3 linked regions of the Homo sapiens genome follow. The protein of the gene in region 1 binds, or shares a complex with, the protein of each later gene. Each region holds a gene or a part of one and is shown on either strand. Other genes may lie near its edges.

Region 1 (7,927 bases):
TATCCTGCCTCAGCCTCCCGAGTAGCTGGGATTACAGGCACATGCCACCATGCCTGGCTAATTTTTGCGTTCTTAGTACAGACAGGGTTTCACCATCTTGTCCAGACTGGTCTTGAACTCCTGACCTTGTGATCCACCTGCCTTGGCCTCCCAAAGTGCTGGGATTACAGGCATGAGCCACTGCGCCAGGCCCAAATCTGCATTTTAGCGAGTCCCTGGTATCTCCTGTGAGCATTAAAGTTTGAGAAGTGGTGATCTGTGTGCTGATGGCTCCCCAATGTTCACCTCAATCCCTGGGCCCCAGCCTTTATACCTAACTGCCACTTTGGCATATACCCAGCCATCTCAAACATAATTTGCTCCAAACTGATATCCTTGCTTAAACTTGATCCTCTCCATCCTATCCAATCGCACCACTACTACTGGCCATTCAGGCTACAAACCTAGGAGACATTTCTGAGTCCACTATGTCCCTCACTCTCCTATTCAATCCATCAACTAGTCTAGGTGACTACTTCCAAATCCATCCCAAATGCATCTCTTTCTATCTGAAGCCACCACCTCAATCTATGACTTGGATACCTATCAAGCCTCCCACTTTTGCCCTTCCTGCCTCCAGTCAGTTCTCCCCACTATGGCCAGAGGGAGCTTTTTTTTTTTTTTTTTGGAGACAGAGTCTCACTCTGTTCCCCAGGCTGGAGTGCAATGGCGCATCTCGGCTCACTGCAACCTCCGCCTCCCCAGTTCAAGTTGGTTCTCATGCCTCAGCCTCCCGAGTAGCTGGGACTACAGGTGTGTGCCACCACACCCAGCTAATTTTTTGTATTTTAGTAGAGATGGGGTTTCATCATGTTGCTCAGGGTGGTCTCGAACTCCTGAGTTCAAGCAATCCACCCATCTTGGCCTCCCAAAGTGCTAGGATTACAGGTGTGAGCCACCACACCCAGCCAGAGGGAGCTTTTAAACTAAAATTAGGCCAGGCGCTGTGGCTCACGCCTGTAATCCCAGCACTTTGGGAGGCTGAAGCAGGTGGATCACAAGGTCAGTTCAAGACCAGCCTGGCCGAGATGGTGAAAGCCCGTCTGTACTAAAAATACAAAAATTAGCCAGGTGTGGTGGCAGGCACCTGTAATCCCAGCTATTCGGGAGCCTGAGGCAGGAGAATCACTTGAACCTGGGAGGTGGAGGTTGCAATGAGCCAAGATTGTGCCACTGCACCCCAGTCTGGGCGACAGAGCGAGATTCCATCGCTAAATAAATAAATAAATCAACTAAAATTAGTGATTTCTGCCTAAAATCGCTAACGGCATATCACACTTAAAATCAGAGACTGGGCACACTGGCTCATGCCTGTAATCCCAACACTTTGGGAGACCAAGGTAGGAGGATCACTTGAGCCCAGGGATTCAAGACCAGCCTGGGCAACATAGAGAGACCCCATCTCTACAAAAAAATTAAGAATTATCCAGGCATGGTGGTGAATGCCTGTCATCTCAGGTACTCAGGAGACTGAGGCTGGAGGATCCTTTAAGGTCAGTAGTTAGAGGTTGCAGTGAACCATGACTGCACTTGTGAATAGCCACTGCACTCTAGCCTGGGCAACATACTGAGATCCTGTCTCTAAAAATAAATAAATAGCCAGGGAGCAGTGGCTCATGCCTATAATCCTAGTGCTTTGGAAGTCCAAGTGGGGAGGATCGCTTGAGCCCAGGAGTTCAAGACCAGCCTGGACAACATAGCAGGACACGATCTTTACAAAAATTATTTTAAAAAATTAGCTGGACCTGGTGGTGTGCACCTGTAGTTCCAGCTACTGGGAAAGCTGAGGCAGGAGAATCACTTGAGCCATGGAGTTTGAGGCTGCAGTGAGCTATGGAGTGCACTGCACCACTGCACTCCAGGCTTGACGAACAAGTGAGATCCTGTCTCTAAAAAATAAAAATAAATAAATAAAATCAGATAGGGTCTACCCCTCTAAACTCAACTCCTACCACTGGCAGCTTCAGCTACACTGTTTCTGAAAGAAACTAAGTTTATCCCATCTCAGAACCTTTGTACTTGCTTTTCTCTCTGTCTAGAGCTTTCTTCCTCCAGATCTGCCCACAGCTGTCTCTGGTCATTTCAATGAAAGGTCTTCTTTGACCATCTCCCATTCCCCACATTCTAAAAGCCCTCATCACCCTATTAATTTTTGTTTCGGAGACAGGGTCCTGCTCTGTTGCCCAGGCTGGGGTGCAGTGGCACAATCACGGCTCACTACAGCCTCAACCTCCTGGGCTCAAGCAATCCTCCCACCTCAGCTTCCCGAGTAGCTAGGACTACAGGCGTGCACCACTACGCCCAGATAATTTTTTGTAGAGAACAGGGTCTTGCTATGTTGCCAAGGCTGGTCTCGAAACTCCTGGGCTCAAGCGAAATTCCCGACACCATTAACGCATTTTTAGTAACTTATCAGTATCTGAAATCACCTGTTTCGTTTATTTCTAATTTGTTCAAAGTCTGGTTCCCCCAGGAGATGAGAGATTTTTATCTATCTTCCTCATTGCTGTGTCTCCAGCACCAAGGACAGTGCCTGGTATATGACAGATGCCTAACGAGTAACAACTGAACGGAAACAAGCCTCAATTTCAAAAAAACACCTATAAATCTGAACCCCGAGGTATGGTGTACGTACAACAGCTTTGAAACCGGCTGCCAGGATTCTGGGTCTCTTGGGGGAAAAAGGCAGACGCGGATTCCAAATCCTGCCCGGTTGCCGACTTGCGGCGTGACCTCTCGCGAGGTCATCTGCAAAATGGGAGACTGGGGGCGTGAGGCGGCTGGCACAAGACAGGCGGCCTTTCCCAGCGCGTCCCCGCCCCCACTACGAAAGGTCATGGCGCCCTGGCCCTGCAGCTGGGTCCCTCCAGGGCTGCCCTCTCGCGCTGCCGGGTCCTGAAGGGCCCGCCTGCAGCCCAGCAGTTCGCGTTCGCCTACCCGCGCGCGACCTACCTACTCACGCGGCCAGCCGCGGACTCCAGGCCAGCTCTGTCTTGTTGCTGGGCGCTGCCATATTGGCCCAGAGAGCGTCCGGGTCAGGGAGCTCCAGGGAGGTAGCAAATCAAGAAAGCTGGTGTAATAGGTCCCGCCCACAACGCGAGGTGGGCCAATAGGAAGGCGGAAGGATCTGGGACCCGCCTCATAACGAGCCAGGCCCAGCCTCTAATGAGGCAAGACGCACTCCAGACCTGGGAACCTTGAAATGGCCCGGGAGGCTGGACTTGGGAGTCATAGTCTATGAATCCAGTCGCAGGCCCCAGCGGCTGAAATGAGAAAATGAATTAAAAAAAAACAAAAAGTGAAAGGGGGCCGGTACGGTGGCTCATGCCTGTAATCCCAGCACTTTGGGAGGCCAGAAGTTCGAGACCAGCCTGGGCAACATAGCGAGACCCCCTTATCTACAAAAAATTTAAAAATTAACTGGGCATGATGGCGCATGCTCATAGTCCCAGCTATTCGGGAGGCTGAAACGGGAGGATCGCTTGAGCCCTGGAGGTCGAGGCTACAGCGAGCCATGATTGCACCCCTGCACTCCAGCCTGGGCAACAGAGTGAGACCCTGTTTCTAAAAATAGTAATAATAAATAAATAGGGCAGGGCGCGGTGGCTCACGCCTGTAATCCCAACACTTTGGGAGGCCGAGGCCTGCGGATCACCTGAGGTCAGGAGTTCGAGACCAGCCTGGCCAACATGATGAAACCCCGTCTCTACTAAAAATACAAAGTTAGCAGGGCATGGTGGTGGGTGCCTGTAATCCCAGCTTCTCGGGAGGTTGAGGCAGGAGAATCGCTTGAACCCGGGAGACGGAGGTTGCAGTGAGCCAGGATAACACCACTGCACTCCAGCCTCAGCAACAGAGCGAGACTCTGTCTCAAAAAATAAATAAATAAATAAAAATTAGTGGGGCGTGGTGGCGTGCTCCTGTGATCCCAGCTACTCGGGAGGCTGAGGCACGAGAATTGCTTGAACCCAGGAGGTGGAGGTTGCAGCGAGCCGATATAGCACCACTGCACTCCAGCCTGGGCGACAGAGTGAGACTCCGTCTCAGTAAATAAATAAATAGGAAGGCCTCAGTGAGGTGTCCTTTGAGTAAAGGCCGGAGGAAGTGAGTGAGCCATCTGGATATCTGGGGAACGCTTTTGGCACTGGGAACAACAGCAAAGACTCTGTGTGGTCGGAGTGGAGTCTTTGGAGGAAATGGGATAAAACGAGGTGAGATTGAGTAATGGGGGCTCCTGGTCTCCCCCAGAAAGCACCAGATTTAGGCTGTTAATAACTAAGGTGGATAAGCACATAAAATGGGCTATTGGCAATAACAGTGTCCCCCGGGAAGGAAGGCTATCTGCCCTCATAAGCCCATTTCTGCAGTCCCTCAGCCTCTGTGGCGCAGTGAGCTGGCATGGAGACTAGGATGCAAGAACCTACCCTTAGGATGCCTCAAGGACTCTGCGCAGCCGCAGGACATCCACCTCATCAGAACTCTTGTGATTGGGCAATCTGAGAAAACCTGTAGCCAATCAGCTGCTTGGCTGGAGCACTCCTCTCTGGCAAGTTGACAGGCACGTGGGCAGCGGCTGGGAGCGCTACTGCCCTCTGCCAGGCTCCCGCAGCTACAAGCAAGCAGAGTCAGCTCTGCTTAGCTGGGGAGTGGGTAAGATGATGGGGTCGCTGACCTGGCTGTGGCCTTCAGAGTTATTGGTGTCCTTCTCTTGAGGTGGTCATGGCTTTTGTTTTCTTATTTATCCTTCCAGAACTAGTCTTTTAATATTTTATTTTATTTTATTTTATTTTATTTTTGGAGACGGAGTCTGGCTCTGTCGCCCAGGTTGCAGTGCAGTGGTGCAATCTCAGCTAATTGCAACCTCCGCTTCCCACATTCAAGCAATTCTCCTGCCTCAGCCTCCCGAGTAGCTGGGACTACAGGCGCATGCCACCATACCCGGCTAATTTTTGTATTTTTAGTAGAGATGGAGTTTCACCATGTTGCCTAGGCTGGTCTCCAACTCCTGGGCTCAAGCAGTCCTCCCGCTTCAGCCTCCCAAAGTGTCAGAATTACAGGCATTAGCCACCGTGCCCAGTCATTATTATTATTTATTTATTTATTTATTTTTTGAGACAGAGTCTTGCTCTGTCGCCCAGGCTGGAGTGCAGTGGCACGATCTCGGCTCACTGCAAACTCCGCCTCCTGGGCTCACGCCATTCTCCTGCCTCAGCCTCCCCAGTTGCTGGGACTGCAGGCGCCCGCCACCATGCCCAGCTAATTTTTTTGTATTTTTAGTAGAGACGGGGTTTCACTGTGTTCTCCAGGATGGTCTGATCTCCTGACCCCGTGATCTGCCAGCCTCGGCCTCCCAAAATGCTGGGATTACAGGCATGAGCCACCATGCCCGGCCTATTATTATTATTTTAAAATAGAGATGGGATCTTAATATGTTACCAAGGCTTGTCTCAAACTCCTGGGGTACTGCGATCCACCCATCTTGGCCTCCTAAAGTGCTGGGATTATAGGCATGTGCCACCACACCAGGCCAGTAGTCTTTTAAAAACAAGTAGGTACAGGCCGTGCGCGGTGGCTCACGCCTGTAATCCCACCACTTTGGGAAGCCGAGGCGGGTGGATCACGAGGTCAGGAGATCAAGACCATCCAGCCTAACAAGGTGAAATCCAGTCTCTACTAAAAAAAATACAAAAAATTAGCCAGGCGTGGTGGTGGGCGCCTGTAGTCCCAGCTACTCGGGAGGCTGAGGCAGGAGAATGGTGTGAACCCGGGAGGCGGAGCTTGCAGTGAGCCGAGACTGCACCACTGCACTCCAGCCTGGGCGACAGAGCAAGACTCCATCTCAAAAAAACAAACAGACAAACAACAACAAAAAAACCAAGAATGTACATATTTTATGTACTGTATGTATTAACACAGAACACCATATGTGAGGCCCTGGTGCAGAATCTTTAACATTACAGTCCCAGAAAGAACCCTATAAAAAGTAGTAGCTTCACAGTGAAAGATCCTAGCAGACACCACCTTAACCAAGGGACCAACATTTATATCACCAGCAATGAGTCATGGTGATATCATGAAGCCCTTGGTATGACACACTTAGAAGGATACATCATCACCTCTCTGGTATTCTTCCTGGTAATGCAAACACCTCAGTTTATTCAAGACAAACCAAACTCGAAGACAGTCTACAAAATAACTGACCAGCACTCTTCAAAAGTGTCAAGGTCCTGAAAGACCCAGGGACTATTATAGACTGTAGGAATGTATGGAGATATGACAATTAAATGCAATGAGGGCCAGGCACAGTGGCACTGTAGTTCTAGCTATTTAGGAGGCTGAGGCAGGAGGATCACTTGAACCCAGGAGTTCAAGTCCAGCCTGGGCATCATAGTGAGACCTCATCTCTAAGATAGATAGATAGATAGATAGATAGATAGATAGATAGACAGACAGACAGACAGACAGACAGACAGACAGAAAGAAAGAAACGCAATGGGCCGGATGCGGTGGCTCACACCTGTAATCCCAGCACTTTGGGAGGCCGAGGCAGACAGATCACAAGGTCAGGAGTTCAAGACCAGCCTGACCAACATGGTGAAACCCCCTGCCTCAGCCTCCCATGTAGCTGGGATTATAGGCTCCCACCATTACGCCCAGCTAATTTTTGTAGTTTTTGTAGAGATGGGGTTTTACCATGTTGGCCAGGGTGGTCTTGAACTCCTGACCTCAGGTGATTCACCCGCCTCAGCCTCCCAAAGTGTTGGGATTACAGGCGTGAGTCACTGCACCCAGCTGGAGTCCCCACTCTTAACCACAGCGCTACAGTGTCTTCATTTAGTTGAAACAACATGCTATATGTTTTAACTTCAACTTTGTCTATCTCCCTTGTCCCAGGTTGATGGGATTTATAGTGATTTATTATGACAAGGCCACTGCAATAAATGTTCCTGTACATATGTCATTCTTCACACCTACACTTGTACTTCTGAGGAATATTCTAAAATAGAGGATATACTTGTTCAGAAGGTAAGGACATTTGTCATTTGGGAAACTATCAACAAATTGCCCACACTCATCAACAATGTTCCCACAGCCTCCTCTGCGTTACATGTTGTCAAGCATTCTTTTATTTATTTATTTATTTATTTATTTATTTATTTATTTTTTTGAGACAGAGTCTCGCTCTGTCGCCCAGGCTGGAATGCAGTGGCACGATCTCAGCTCACTGCAAGCTCTGCCCCACAGCTTGACGCCATTCTCCTGCCTCAGCCTCCCAAGTAGCTGGGACTACAGGCGCCCGCCACCACGCCCGGCTAATTTTTTGTATTTTTAGTAGAGACAGGGTTTCACCATGTTGGCCAGGATGGTCTCGATCTCCTGACCTCGTGATCCGCCTGCCTTGGCCTCCCAAAGTGCTGGGATTACAGGCGTGAGCCACCACACCCGGCCGTCAAGCATTCTTTTCTTTTCTTATTTATTTATTTTTCACCCAAACTAAAATGCAATGGCATGGCTGGACACAGTGGCTCATGCCTGTAATCCCAGCACTTTGGGAGGCCAAGGCAAGCAGATTACCTGAGGTCAGTAGTTCGAGACCAGTCTGGCCAACATGGTGAAACCCCATCTCTACTAAAAATACAAAAATTAGCCCGGTATGGTGGTGGGCACCTGTAATCCCAGCTACTCAGGAGGCTGAGGCAGGATAATTGCTTGAACCTGGGAGGTGGAAGTTGCAGTGAGCTGAGATCATGCCACTGTACTCCGGCCTGGGTGACAGAGTGAGATTCTGTAAAAAAAAAAAAAAAAAAAAAAATAAGCAGTGTCATGATCATAGCTCACTGTAGCCTCCAACTCCTGGGCTCAAGCAATCCTCCTGCCTTGCCCTCCC
Region 2 (7,114 bases), on another chromosome or scaffold:
CTGTCATACAGAAAAATCAAAGTTAATAAATAATGAAATGCTAGAAGAATGAAATTACAAAAATAAAGTCAAACTAAGTGAGAGCTACCAAATATAAAGGATTATCCACAACTAACAGTATTACAGGTAATCACTGTCGAGTTCTAAATTTCCTTTTCTATTAGAACATAACTTTCCCCACACACCGAATCTGTACTCAGGTGTGCATTTATCCCTAGATTCAGTCTGAGGAGTTGAAAAGTGACAAAGGGATGGATGGCTTCCTGACTACTATGAAAATGTCCCCTGACCCACATATTTCAATATAGTATTAAGCCTTGTTTTCATTACCTGAAATGTATGTTTGCTTACAAACAGGTTTCCTTGAATCTATTCTCCCCACCTCCTCCAATCAAGGAGCAAAGAGAACACCAGAGAAGCTGGAGCACAGTGAACAAGGGGAAACTGGCATGAGATGAGACTATAACAGAAAGAAGAGAGGCCACATCACAGAACAGGGAGGAGGGAGGAATGTTGTGGGTCAAGTTAAATATTTGGGGTTTATTCTACGTAAAATAAAAAGTAAAAGGCCAGGCATGGTGGCTCACACCTGTAATCCCAGCACTTTGGGAGGCCAAGGTGGGCGGGTCACTTGAGGTCAGGAGTTCAAGACCAGCCTGGCCAACATGGTGAAACCCCATCTCTACTAAAATCATAAAAATTAGCCAGGCATGGTGGCGGGCACCTGTAATCCCAGCTACTCGGGAGGCTGAGGCAGGAGAATTGCTTGAAACCGGGAGGAAAGATTGCAGTGAGCCAAGATCGCACCACTGCACTCCAGCCTGGGCAACAAAGCAAAACTCTGTCAAAAAAAAAAAGGAAAAAAAGAGTTCCAATGCTCAGTATAATTTTGTGTTTTTATTGTGGGAAGCAGTAATGTTGCATCCCTGCCTTTCCTCTTTATTAAGCGTTTTATCTAAGTATGATGGACTAGAAAGGATAAAATCAACATGGTCCCCTTCCTTTTTCTTTTTTTTTCAGAAACTTACAAACTTTCTCACAAACTTGTTTAAGAATAAAAATATGGGGAGTGACATGATCAGATTTTACATTTTTTAAAAATGGCTGCTGTGTGAAAAATAGGGGTAATAATATATCCTGGCAGATCAATTAGGAAGCAGTATATCTAGGTGAAAAATCATTGTTCTGTGCAACGAGAGAGGTAAAGATGAAGTGGCCATATTTGAAAATATTTAGGAGGTAGAATTTAGAGAACACTGAGAGGTCTTAAAGTGACCCTGGATATTACTCAGGAGCCTCTGGATGAATGGCAGCCCCAGTCCCTAGGGAAGTATATACTGCCAGACATTAAGTTGCTGGAAGTATAAAGAAAAAGAGAATCCATTTTTTGGATGGGTTAGCTTCGAAAACCTATGAGTCACCTAAGTGCAAATGTCTCACAAGCTTCCTCTTCATCATTTCTCACTGAACATCTCCATTAAGGCTTCACAATCAGGATGCTGGCAATTAGAACCTGTATCTTTCTTCCATGGCTGCTCCATTTACTGATCAATGCCACCAACTACCAGAGATGTTATAAAGGGATTCCTACATGTGATAGAGAAGGCTGAAACATAAAACATCTGAAGTCACACTGATAAGCCTCTATTACTCACAGATTCATCCACAACACTGGAGTTATTCCCGCTACAAAGGTTAACCTTAAGGAAAGAGTTAATTCATAATTCTGCAAACACTGAAAACAAATACAAATGTATTAAGGAATACTTTTATCCATAGACTGCTTTACTAGTAACATTACAAGAATAAGATGAATTTTGAAATAGACTTTAAAAAATAATTTCAATAGTTAAATGTCAGTTCTTAATTAACCATCTTGATTTTCTGATGTAAAAAATGTACAGCAATTATCGTCCAGCTGACAAAAAGCCACAATCTTTATTAGTAAATCCTATTATATAGCACAACACTGCCACCTGTTGGAAGAGATAACTAGCCAAATGTTTTTATTCCTAAACACTAAATGCATGAGAAAGTTTATGAATTTCTCAAAAAAAAATGAAGAGACTGTTGACTTTATCCTTTCTAGCCCAACATGCTTAGATTAAATCCCTAATAAAGAGGAAAAGCAAGGATGTAATGTAACTGCTTCCCACAATAAAAACACAAAATGGCATTTACTTTTTGGTTTTGGTTATTTGGGTAAGGGGAAGATTTAACCATGAAGAGATAGCACTAGGGAGTTTTTGAGGTGAGGCAACTATTCTGCATCCTGACTATGGTGTTGGTTATAGAAATCAGTACATGGGTTAAAATTTATAATATAAAAAGTTTATTTTACTGTACGGTAATTTAAAAAAAAAACAAGGTAAGAGAATACAAATACTCAGTACCATGGGAAAAGTCGTAAGTTATAATGTGAAAGTATTCACATAAATTTCAAAGTTTTGCTACTTATAGCTCAAAGGCTTGAAGCCCAAAAAACATTAGAAAGATTCTAATGTAATACTGCATGCTGACATACTTAAATATGGATGTAGAAGTGTTTCTAAAGACTACCATTGCACACCAGAAGTCAATCTTTGCCCCTAGCACAGAACATTTCAATGAGAGGAACAATCTATAACCAAAAGTTAGGACATTCACCGTTGATTCTGGTAACTTTTTTTTTTTTTTTTTGAGACAGGGTCTCACTCTGTCACTCAGGCTGGAGTGCAGTGGCGCCACTGCAACTCACTACAGCCTCGACCTCCCAGACTCAGGTGATCTTCCCACCTCAGCCTCCTGAGCAGCTGGAACCAAAGGTGTGCACCACCATGCCCAGCTAGTTCTTTTGTATTTTTAGTAGAGAGATGGGGTTTCGCCACTTTGCCCAAGCTGGTCTCAAACTCCTGGACTCAAGTGATCTGCCCACCTTGGCCCCCCAAAGTGCTGGGATTACAGGCATGAGCCACCACGCCTGGCTAGGAAATGCTTTTCCCTACGACAAAACGAGAGTCTCGTTCTATCGCCCAGGCTAGAGTGCAATGGCACAATCTCAGCTCCCTGCAACCTCTGCCTCCCAGGTTCAAGAGATTCTTGTGCCTCGTACCAGCTGCGAGTAGCTAGGACTACAGGCACATGCCATCACGCCCAGCTAATTTTTGTATTTTTAGTAGAGACGGGGTTTCACCATGTTGGCCAGGCTGGTCTGGAACTCCTGATCTCAAGTGATCCGACTGCCTTGGCCTCCCAAAGTGCTGGGATTACAGGCATGAGCCACCACGCCCAGCTAGTACATTCTTTATGTGATTGCATTTCATCTCCCTCAAAAAGCTGGTGCATAAACAGGGAAAGTTGGGTGCTTGGCATCTATGTAATCTTGGTATTTGCTAGATCACTTATGAATGCAAGTGACATCAAAGTTCCACGAGATCTGGAACATCTAAGTCCATCTGGGGACCTTTCCAGTACATTTGCAAATGCCAAATGTCTTAAGGCACCAAGAGCCCACAAGATAAAAGATCACCAGAGTCCAAATGACAGAGACCCAAACTAAGAGCAAAAGTCACATTAAGATACCAGTTCCTCCCATCTCTCCTGATAATATACTTGCTGTTAATAAAATGATATGGGTTGTAAAGTAATAATGAAATATTAAACTGAGACCTTATGAAAGCTGTTGCAATGGGAGGGAGAGGTTGGTAGAAAGGGTGTAACACATATAATCCTCTACCCTTTATCCCTTAGGGCTGCCCTTAAGCCATCCTGTTCCCAGGATCTGGCAGCTACATGCAATCTTAGTTTTCTAAGTTTTGGTTGAGCCACACTGTTGTCTGTTTTTCTACATTTTCCCAGTGATCCCTGGGAGGTCACAGCTATTCAAATGGATTGCAGTACCCACAATAATTTGCAGTTCCAACAACAGGAGAATAGTTGAAAAAAGAATGATACAGTCGTAAAAGAGAATAATGCTGGTCATCTCCTAATCTTCAACTAATGACATGGTTATATTTGCATTGAGGGAGGTAAACTTGCCTGTCAGAAGCAGCAATAGTCACAGCACACCAGGGTAATTGCCAAAGCATCCAAATGGAGCAGTAGTATGATACCGGAATAATTCACAGACTTTTGGAACTATACAAGTTTGCAAACTCACCTCCATTTTAGAGTCTGTCATGATGGGTAATTTCCCCAAAAAGACTAAAAACACAGAAAGCATTAAGAAAAAAAAAAGGCCAGGCAAGGTGGCTCACACCTGTAATCCCAGCACTTTGGGAGGCTGAGGTGGGCGGATCGCTTGAGCTCAGGAGTTTGAGCCCAGCCTGGGCAACATGGCAAAATCCCATCTCAACAAAAAATATAAAAATTAGCCCGGCGTGGTGGCATGTGCCTGTAGTCCCAACTACTTGAGGGGCTAAAGCAGGAGGATCACTTGAGCCCATGAGGTCAAGGCTGCACTGAGCCATGTTCATGGCACTGCACTCCAGCCTGGGTGACAAAGTGAGACCCTGTCTCAAAAAACAAAAACCAAAAAATCTTGGATCATAGAGATGTTTACAATTTGGAAAACTATCCATGATAAACTTTTTATTTAGTCTGAATTGCAATAATTTTAAAACTCAAAGATCTCCAAGTCCTAATACAAAAACACCTACACCCCTTCAAGTAGGAAATAGTCCTTTGGAAAGGTAAACGTGATAATCCATGCCTAAATTACACAATTCCTTTAAATCTCATCTTTTATGCAAATAACAAAAACACTAAAGCATACGGGCAGTTCCTCAAAAAAATCAACAGAATTACCCTACAATCCAGCAATTCCACTTCTGGATACGTATACCTAAAAGAACTGAAAGCACAGCCAGGCGCGGTGGCTCACACCTGTTATCCCAGCACTTTGGGACACTGAGGTGGGCGGATCCCTTGAGGTCAGGAGTTCAAGACCAGCCTGGCCAACATAGCAAAACCCTGTCTCTACTAAAAATATAAAAATTAGCCTGCGTGGTGGTGCACGCCTGTAGTCCCAGCTACTCGAGAGGCTGAGGCAGGAGAATCACTTGAACCAGGAGGCAGAGGTTGCAGTGAGCCAAGATCACACCACTGCACTCCAGCCTGGGAGACAGAGCAAGACTCCATCTCAAAGAAAAAAAAAAAAAGAATTGAAAGCAGGAACTCAGACATTTGTATACCAATGTTCACAGCAGCACTATTCACAATAGCCAAAAGGTGGCAACAACCCAAATATCTATCGACTAATGAATGGATAAACAAAATGTGTTCTATGGAATACAATGTAATACTATTCAGTCTTTAAAAAAATGAAAATTCCAACACATGCCACAACATGAATTAACCTTGAAGACATGCTAAATGAAATAAACCAGACTCAAAAGGACAAATATTTTATGATTCCACTTTTATGAGGACCCTAGAATAGTCACATTCATAGACAGAAAATATAATGGTAGTTGCCAGGGACTGGAAAGAGGGAGGAACGGAGATTTATCATTTAATGGGTGCAGTGTGTGGAGATAAAAGTGCTCTGGGTCGGGCGCAGTGGCGCACGCCTGCAATCCCAGCACTTTGGGAGGCTGAGGTGGGCAGATCACCTGAGGTCGAGAGTTCAAGACCAGCATGACCAACATGGAGAAACCCCGTCTGTACTAAAAATACAAAATTAGCTAGGTGTGGTGGCGCATGCCTGTAATCCCAGCTACTCGGGAGGCTGAGGCAGGAGAATCACTTGAACCCGGGAGGTGGGGGTTGCGGTAAGCTGAGAACACGCCACTGCACTCCAGCCAGGGCAACATGAACGAAACTCCATCTCAAAAAAAAAAAAAGAAAAAGAAAAAAGTGTTCTGGAGATAGATGGTGGTTATGGTTACACAACAATGTTAAAGTACTTAATGGCACTGAACTGTATCTTTACAAATAGTTAAAATGGCCAATTTTATGTTATGTATATTCTATCACAATTTTAAAAAAGAAAAGACAAAACACTGAAACAAGAAACACACAGTTCTAACTGGAATCAAGCCAAGGGGAAAGAATGAAATCTTGGCCATTATATGTAAACAGAGAGATGCAATTTTTTTCTGGAAGCTATTGTATATCACTTTCCTTAGATTCTCAAAATGCTCAGTTTCTAAAAATACTTTTACTACTGGCTGGGCGCAATGGCTCATGCCTATAACCCCAGCACTTTAGGAGGCCGAGGCGGTGGATCACCTGAGGTCAGGAGTTCCAGACCAACCTAGCCAGCATGGTGAAACCCCGTCTCTACTATAAAACAAAAAAATTAGCTGGGCATGGTGGCAGTCACCTGTAATCTCAGCTACTCAGGAGGCTGGGGCAGGAGAATCACTTGAACCCAGGAGGCGGAGGTTGCAGTAAGCCGAGATCGCACCATTGCACTCCAGCCTGGGTACCAAGAGCGAAACTCCATCTCAAAAAATATATATATTATATATATACTATATATATTACTACTACTGCCTTTTAACCAACAAAATTAAAAAAATACAAAACAATGTTAATAGGATTTTATAAAACTACTTTTTCCAACATGCCCCAAACAATACAGAACACAATAGCTACACTCAACCTCTGCATACATTAAATAATCTTCAAATAAATGCCTGCTAGTATGAAAAAAGTACCTACTATTTGGTGACCAACTGTCCAATATGGCTCTCACAAATCTAATGCAGCATATGAAACATGAACAAGAGGATAAAAGAATAACTTCTTGGAGTCTGTTTAAAATAGAGAGTTAAATGAACAAAGTTGAAGCAGATCATGGCACATTTTTCAAGGCAGAGAGACAGGGAGGCAACAATGTCTGAAACAATGAACACTCTTAGGCTAAATATACCACCAGGGACTCAGATGTCACACTAACTGGGAACTACTATGTCAGTTTCTATAACTCCTATAATTAAAGAACAATATCCTAAACTATTAGCCAGAAGGCTTTTAGAGGCAAAGTCCTGACTACACAAAAATGTAAAACAATATAGTAAAAAATATAAAACAAAGTTAACTAAATAGATTGAAAATATCTGCCACATATCTAACAGTCAATGGCTTAAATCCCTACACAAAGAACTCCTAAAAATCAATAAAGACAAAA
Region 3 (5,558 bases), on another chromosome or scaffold:
ATTATGTGTATACCTCTCAAATCCTCTCATAGTATGTGTTCACACTTACTCCTCCTCAATTGAGTTCCTTCTAGGTAAGGAATGTTTGTTTTCTTTCTTTTTTTTTTTTTTGATATGGAGTTCTGCTCTGTTGCCCAGGCTGGAGCACAGTGGTGAGATCTCAGCTTACTGCAACCTCCGCCTCCTGGGTTCAAGCGATTCTCCTGCCTCAGCCTCCCAAGTAACTGGGATTACAGGCATACACCATCATGCCCAGCCAATTCTTTTGTACTTTTAGTAGAGACGAGGTTTTGCCATGTTGGCCAGGCTGGTCTCAAACTCCTAACCTCAGGTGATCCGCCTTCCCTGGCCTCCCAAAGTGCTGGGATTACAGGCGAGAGCCACCATGCCCAGCCAGAATGTTTCTTATTATATTTAACACAGTGCCTGAGAAATAGCTCAATAAATGTTTGATGAATGAATGAATATATAACTGCACAGATGAGACCTTAAAGCCCAAACCCATTTCCACATACAAAGAGGAAAGATGAAACTTTTATTGTTACATTTATTGACACTGGATATTTATTATCTGTTATATACCAGGCAAAATGGACACACCATCAGGAGATAAGACCTGTATCTTACGTGTAAGATGAAACTTATATTTATTGATTGAATTATTGAATACTTTTTGAGTATTTGCTATATACCAGGCAAAAGGCACAGAACAAATTATTTGTTCACAGTTACTTTTAACTCTTTCAGCAATGCCTGAGTCCTCTTTATAGAAACTTCATTTTGCTAAGTTAGCAACCATTCATTTTTTTGGTTACTCTTCATGTATAGTTTTCTCAAGTGTCTCTTCAAATACTGCATAATGGTATAGACCATTTAATATTCCAAACATAATCTGAAAGACTAGAGGAATCGCCATTAATTTCATTTGTGTTTGACAAAGCGTCATCCAATGGATTAAAACCCTTCCTTTTGGTGGCAGTGGAACGGTATGATACCTAAAAAGAAAAAAGAGTTAATCACCTCTCCTGGATATGAATGCTATTAGAAGTTTGTTGACTTCTCCTAAATTGATAATTGCCTTTCTAGATCTATAATGTAGAGAGCAAAAAAGTTAAAAGTTAGCTATCTGAAATACCAAACTACCACATTTTGATTCAAATATATCATAGACAGCTAAAGAAGAAAGAGAGTTTATTAACCTAAAAAAAAAAAAAAAAAAGAAAAGAAAAGAAAAGAAAAAAGAAGGAAAAGGAAGAACTTACTTGGTTGCCAGGCGTCCATTTTTAGTAAAAGCCAAAGAACTGGGATAGAAAACACCACAAACTATGCCAATCAGTGAGCTTCTGAAAACACAGTTTTCCTTGCTTATATTATCTGGAAAACAAAAGTAAATTTGGTTTTCCTTTAAAACTCAAGAGCTATTAAGACAGTGTTGTACCTCACAGAGTAGTTATCTGCACTATCCTCAACCACAACTAAACCATAGAAAGAATATTAGAAATTCAAACTCTGTGGCATATAACAGGCCAAATGCAGCACATTTTAAAAAGTTTTTATTATACTTTATCACATAGAGAATTACCTCTAACGTATGTGGTTGTTGTAGAAGCAATTTTATTTTATTTTTTGGAGACGGAGTCTCACTCTGTTGCCCAGGCTAGAGTACAGTGGCACGATCTCGGCTCACTGCAACCTCTGCCTCCAGGGTTCAAGCAATTCTCATGCCTCAGCCTCCCAAGTAGCTGGGATTATAAGCTTGCACCACCATGCTCAACTGTTTTTCTATTTTTAGTAGAGACTGTGTTGGCCAGGCTGGTCTCGAACTCCTGACCTCAAGTGATCTGCCTGTCTTGGCCTCCCAAAGTGTTGGGATTATAGGCATGAGCCACCGTGCCCAGCCAGAAACAATTTTATAATGACAATACTAAACTAGCAAACCAGACCTGGATTCTAGGTTAATACATTTTTATTATCTACTATATATCAGGAACGTGCTAGGAGCTAGGAATACGGTGGTACATAAAAGAGACCTGATCTCTGACCTTCTGGCCAGTTTACAGAGATGAAAGACACGAGATAAATATTTAAATAGATAATTATCAGTGTACACAATACTTTGAAGATAAACTATATAGAGAATGTATCCAGACACCTAGTGTACAATGAGGCAATCAGAGGTCTCCCTGGGGAAAAGATACTTAAGCAGGAACCTGAAGAATGAACAAGGGATAGATGCTCTATCAATTACTAGTTGTGAAACTCAAGGTAAGGTGAGGGGCAGGAAATAACATTAAAAGCCCATAATATGACAGATATTGTGGTAGTCATTTAACCTACAGTATCTTTTAATTCTCACAACAATCCTGTGAGGTAAGTACTATTAGTCCTAACTTATAGATAAGACAACGGAGGCTCAGAGATGAAATGCCTTACTGAATGTCACAAAACTTAAGTGGCAGGAGGTAGCATACTGAAATGATGTGCGTTGTATGCCACAGCCAATTCTTTTCCCAGTATGTTGCTTATTAGCGTACTTGAACATGCCTCAGTTTGGGTTGCTTATCTACAGAAATAAAAAAATACAGTTTACCTGATTAGGAGGATTGTTGCAGGGATTAAATATGACAAGGTATATGGACTTTGTAAACTGTATAGCAATATATAAATGTAAAGAATTATTATTAGCAGTAGCAACAGTATATGTTAATAAGTAACTTTACTTAGACATAACTACGTTATACATTAGTGAATTTAAATTCACCTGAATACAAAGCATCAATTACAAAAAGCTTGTCAGTAACAACAGTAGACAAAAATGGAAGTGTAGCCAATGATGCATATGTCTTCAAAGCATCATGTTTAACCTTGAAGCAGCGTCTGAACAGGAAGTTTGAGAATATTCCAGAGAAACCAGCTGTTGTTCCAAATGTCGCCATTTGATATATATTTTGTGTCCTAATAGAAAAAAAGAAAAATTCAGTTCACTATACCATTGAACTTAATGGATACAGCCTCTCCTGAAAAGTTGTTATTGCATATCAATATCAAATATTTCTTGAGCACTTACTATATGTGAAAAGTATTTTCTAAGTGCTTAAGATAGGACAGTAAACAAAGCAAAAGAAAAAAAGAAATTTCCCACCCCTCATAGAACTTGTATTCTAATGAGAGGACATGATTCTCTTTCTAAGAATATTTACAGTAATTCTAAAATAGAGCTCTTTTAAATAATTTTGGCCACAAATAAATATAAATATGTTCCAATGCAGCCAAATTTTATGAGCTACCCAAATCCAAGAATACCTTTCCTGCAACTAAAAGATTTACTTTGCTTAAGTTCATCTAAAAAAAAGCTGTTTACATTTGGTTAGGCCTTCTATTTCTTCATTAGTCCCAGATACATTTAAAATAATTTGTCCTGAACAGACACTTCTCAAAAGAAGACATTTATGCAGCCAAAAAACACATGAAAAAATGCTCACCATCACTGGCCATCAGAGAAATGCAAATCAAAACCACAATGAGATACCATCTCACATGAATTAGAATGGCAATCATTAAAAAGTCAGGAAACAACAGGTGCTGGAGAGGATGTGGAGAAATAGGAACACTTTTACACTGTTGGTGGGACTGTAAACTAGTTCAACCATTGTGGAAGTCAGTGTCACGATTCCTCAGGGATCTAGAACTAGAAATACCATTTGACCCAGCCATCCCATTACTGGGTATATACCCAAAGGACTATAAATCATGCTGCTATAAAGACACATGCACACGTATGTTTATTGTGGCACTATTCACAATAGCAAAGACTTGGAACCAACCCAAATGTCCAGCAATGATAGACTGGATTAAGAAAATGTGGCACATATACACCATGGAATACTATGCAGCCATAAAAAATGATGAGTTCATGTCCTTTGTAGGGACATGGATGAAGTTGGAAATCATCATTCTCAGTAAACTATTGCAAGAACAAAAAACCAAACACCGCATATTCTCACTCATAGGTGGGAAATGAACAATGAGAACACATGGACACAGGAAGGGGAACATCACACTCTGGGGACTGTTGTGGGGTGGGAGGAGAGGGGAGGGATAGCTTTAGGAGATCTACCTAATGCTAAATGATGAGTTAATGGGTGCAGCACACCAGCATGGCACATGTATACATATGTAACTAACCTGCACATTGTGCACATGTACCCTAAAACTTAAAGTATAATAATAATAAAATAAAAAAAAATAAAAGGGAATGAGGGAACTTTTTGGGGATGTTGGAAGTATTCCAAATTTTAATTGTGGTGATGGTTACATAACTGTATAAATTTGCTAAAACTCATATAACTGTACACTTTAAATGGATGAATGTCAAGATATATAAATTATACTTCAATAAAGCCATAAAACAGAAAATGAAATAAAATAAAATAAAATAAAATAATTTGTCCAAGATTTATAAAACTTCATCCAAAAAAATCTGATTTAGTTTTCTTATTAAGACCCATATGTAAATCCAGGAAATAACATCAACTGTCCTTTGATTTTTTTCTTGAACTTTGTTCATTTAAAAGTCAAAATGGCCAGTCTGGCCAACATGGTTAAACCATCTCTACTAAAAATACAAAAATTAGCTGGTTGTGGTGGTACACGCCTGTAATCCCAGCTACTTGGGAGGCTGAGGCAGGAGAATCACTTGAACCTGGGAGCTGGAGATTGCAGTGAGCCGAGATTGTGCCACTGCACTCCAGCCTGGGTGACAGAGTGAGACTCTTATCTCAAAAAAAAAAGTCAATATGTTAATGTGAGACTATATTTATACCATGAAATCTGTATTCCCTTTTGCTGTACTAAGTACTGTGGCTGAGATAATCAATCCTAAACTGATTATAATTACTCACCAATTAAATATAAGTACCCCCCTCAATGGTTTTCTCCTAATTACTTTTAATTAAAATACATTTACTGCACAAAAGTTTTAGCAATACTTTTGGATACTTTTTAAGAAACAAAAGAAATTATCCACAATCCGAAATATTCCAACAAACCACCATTTTCATCTGTTCTTGTTTCCCCCATTCTTTTTTTTAAAGATGTGTTCTTCATAGCCAACTCAAAGAATAGGATCTTAGATAACAGAAAAGGTAAGAAAGAATAGGATCTTAGAAACAATGGCAATACAAAAGACTTGCAAATAAAATGACTGATTTTCAGCCTGGGCATTTCTCTTACATTTCTTTTCTAAGATAGTCAAAATTTTTTTCTATGATTTCTATGACCATTGGTCTTCTGAGTTTTGCATCTTCTAGAGAAGGACTGGGCTGACCATGCATAGATGCTGCCATCTTGAAAACCTGGAAAAAAAAATTCCAGAGCCATAATAGCTAATGATATTCATATTACATAAAACCTTACAGAATTCTACAGATTCAGATTTGAAAACATTTACAGTTTAGTAGTGTGCCAGGTACTGTGTCGTCTGCTTTCACATACTTTGTTAGTAATTCAATCAACATTTACTGAGCTCTTATTATCTGTTAGACATTGGCTTTTTGTTA

What was found.
Region 2: ECSIT (region 1) and COA1 share a complex: the UniProt entries of both Homo sapiens proteins name them as parts of the mitochondrial complex.
Region 3: ECSIT (region 1) and TMEM126B share a complex: the UniProt entries of both Homo sapiens proteins name them as parts of the mitochondrial complex.

Annotation. Positions count from the first base shown.
Region 1 is NC_000019.10:11,526,071-11,533,997, forward strand, and holds the start of ECSIT (evolutionarily conserved signaling intermediate in Toll pathway, mitochondrial isoform 1 precursor), read right to left. Parts: upstream 3,065-7,927; 5' UTR 2,992-3,064; intron 2,796-2,991; exon of another isoform or gene 2,675-2,795; intron 1-2,674.
Region 2 is NC_000007.14:43,719,430-43,726,543, forward strand, and holds part of COA1 (cytochrome c oxidase assembly factor 1 homolog), read right to left. Parts: intron 1-7,114. UniProt on the Homo sapiens protein: Component of the MITRAC (mitochondrial translation regulation assembly intermediate of cytochrome c oxidase complex) complex, that regulates cytochrome c oxidase assembly.
Region 3 is NC_000011.10:85,631,483-85,637,040, reverse strand, and holds the end of TMEM126B (complex I assembly factor TMEM126B, mitochondrial), read right to left. Parts: intron 5,355-5,558; coding exon 5,233-5,354; intron 2,956-5,232; coding exon 2,762-2,955; coding exon of another isoform or gene 2,736-2,761; exon of another isoform or gene 1,536-2,735; intron 1,375-1,535; coding exon 1,263-1,374; intron 996-1,262; coding exon 812-995; 3' UTR 505-811; downstream 1-504. UniProt on the Homo sapiens protein: As part of the MCIA complex, involved in the assembly of the mitochondrial complex I. Participates in constructing the membrane arm of complex I.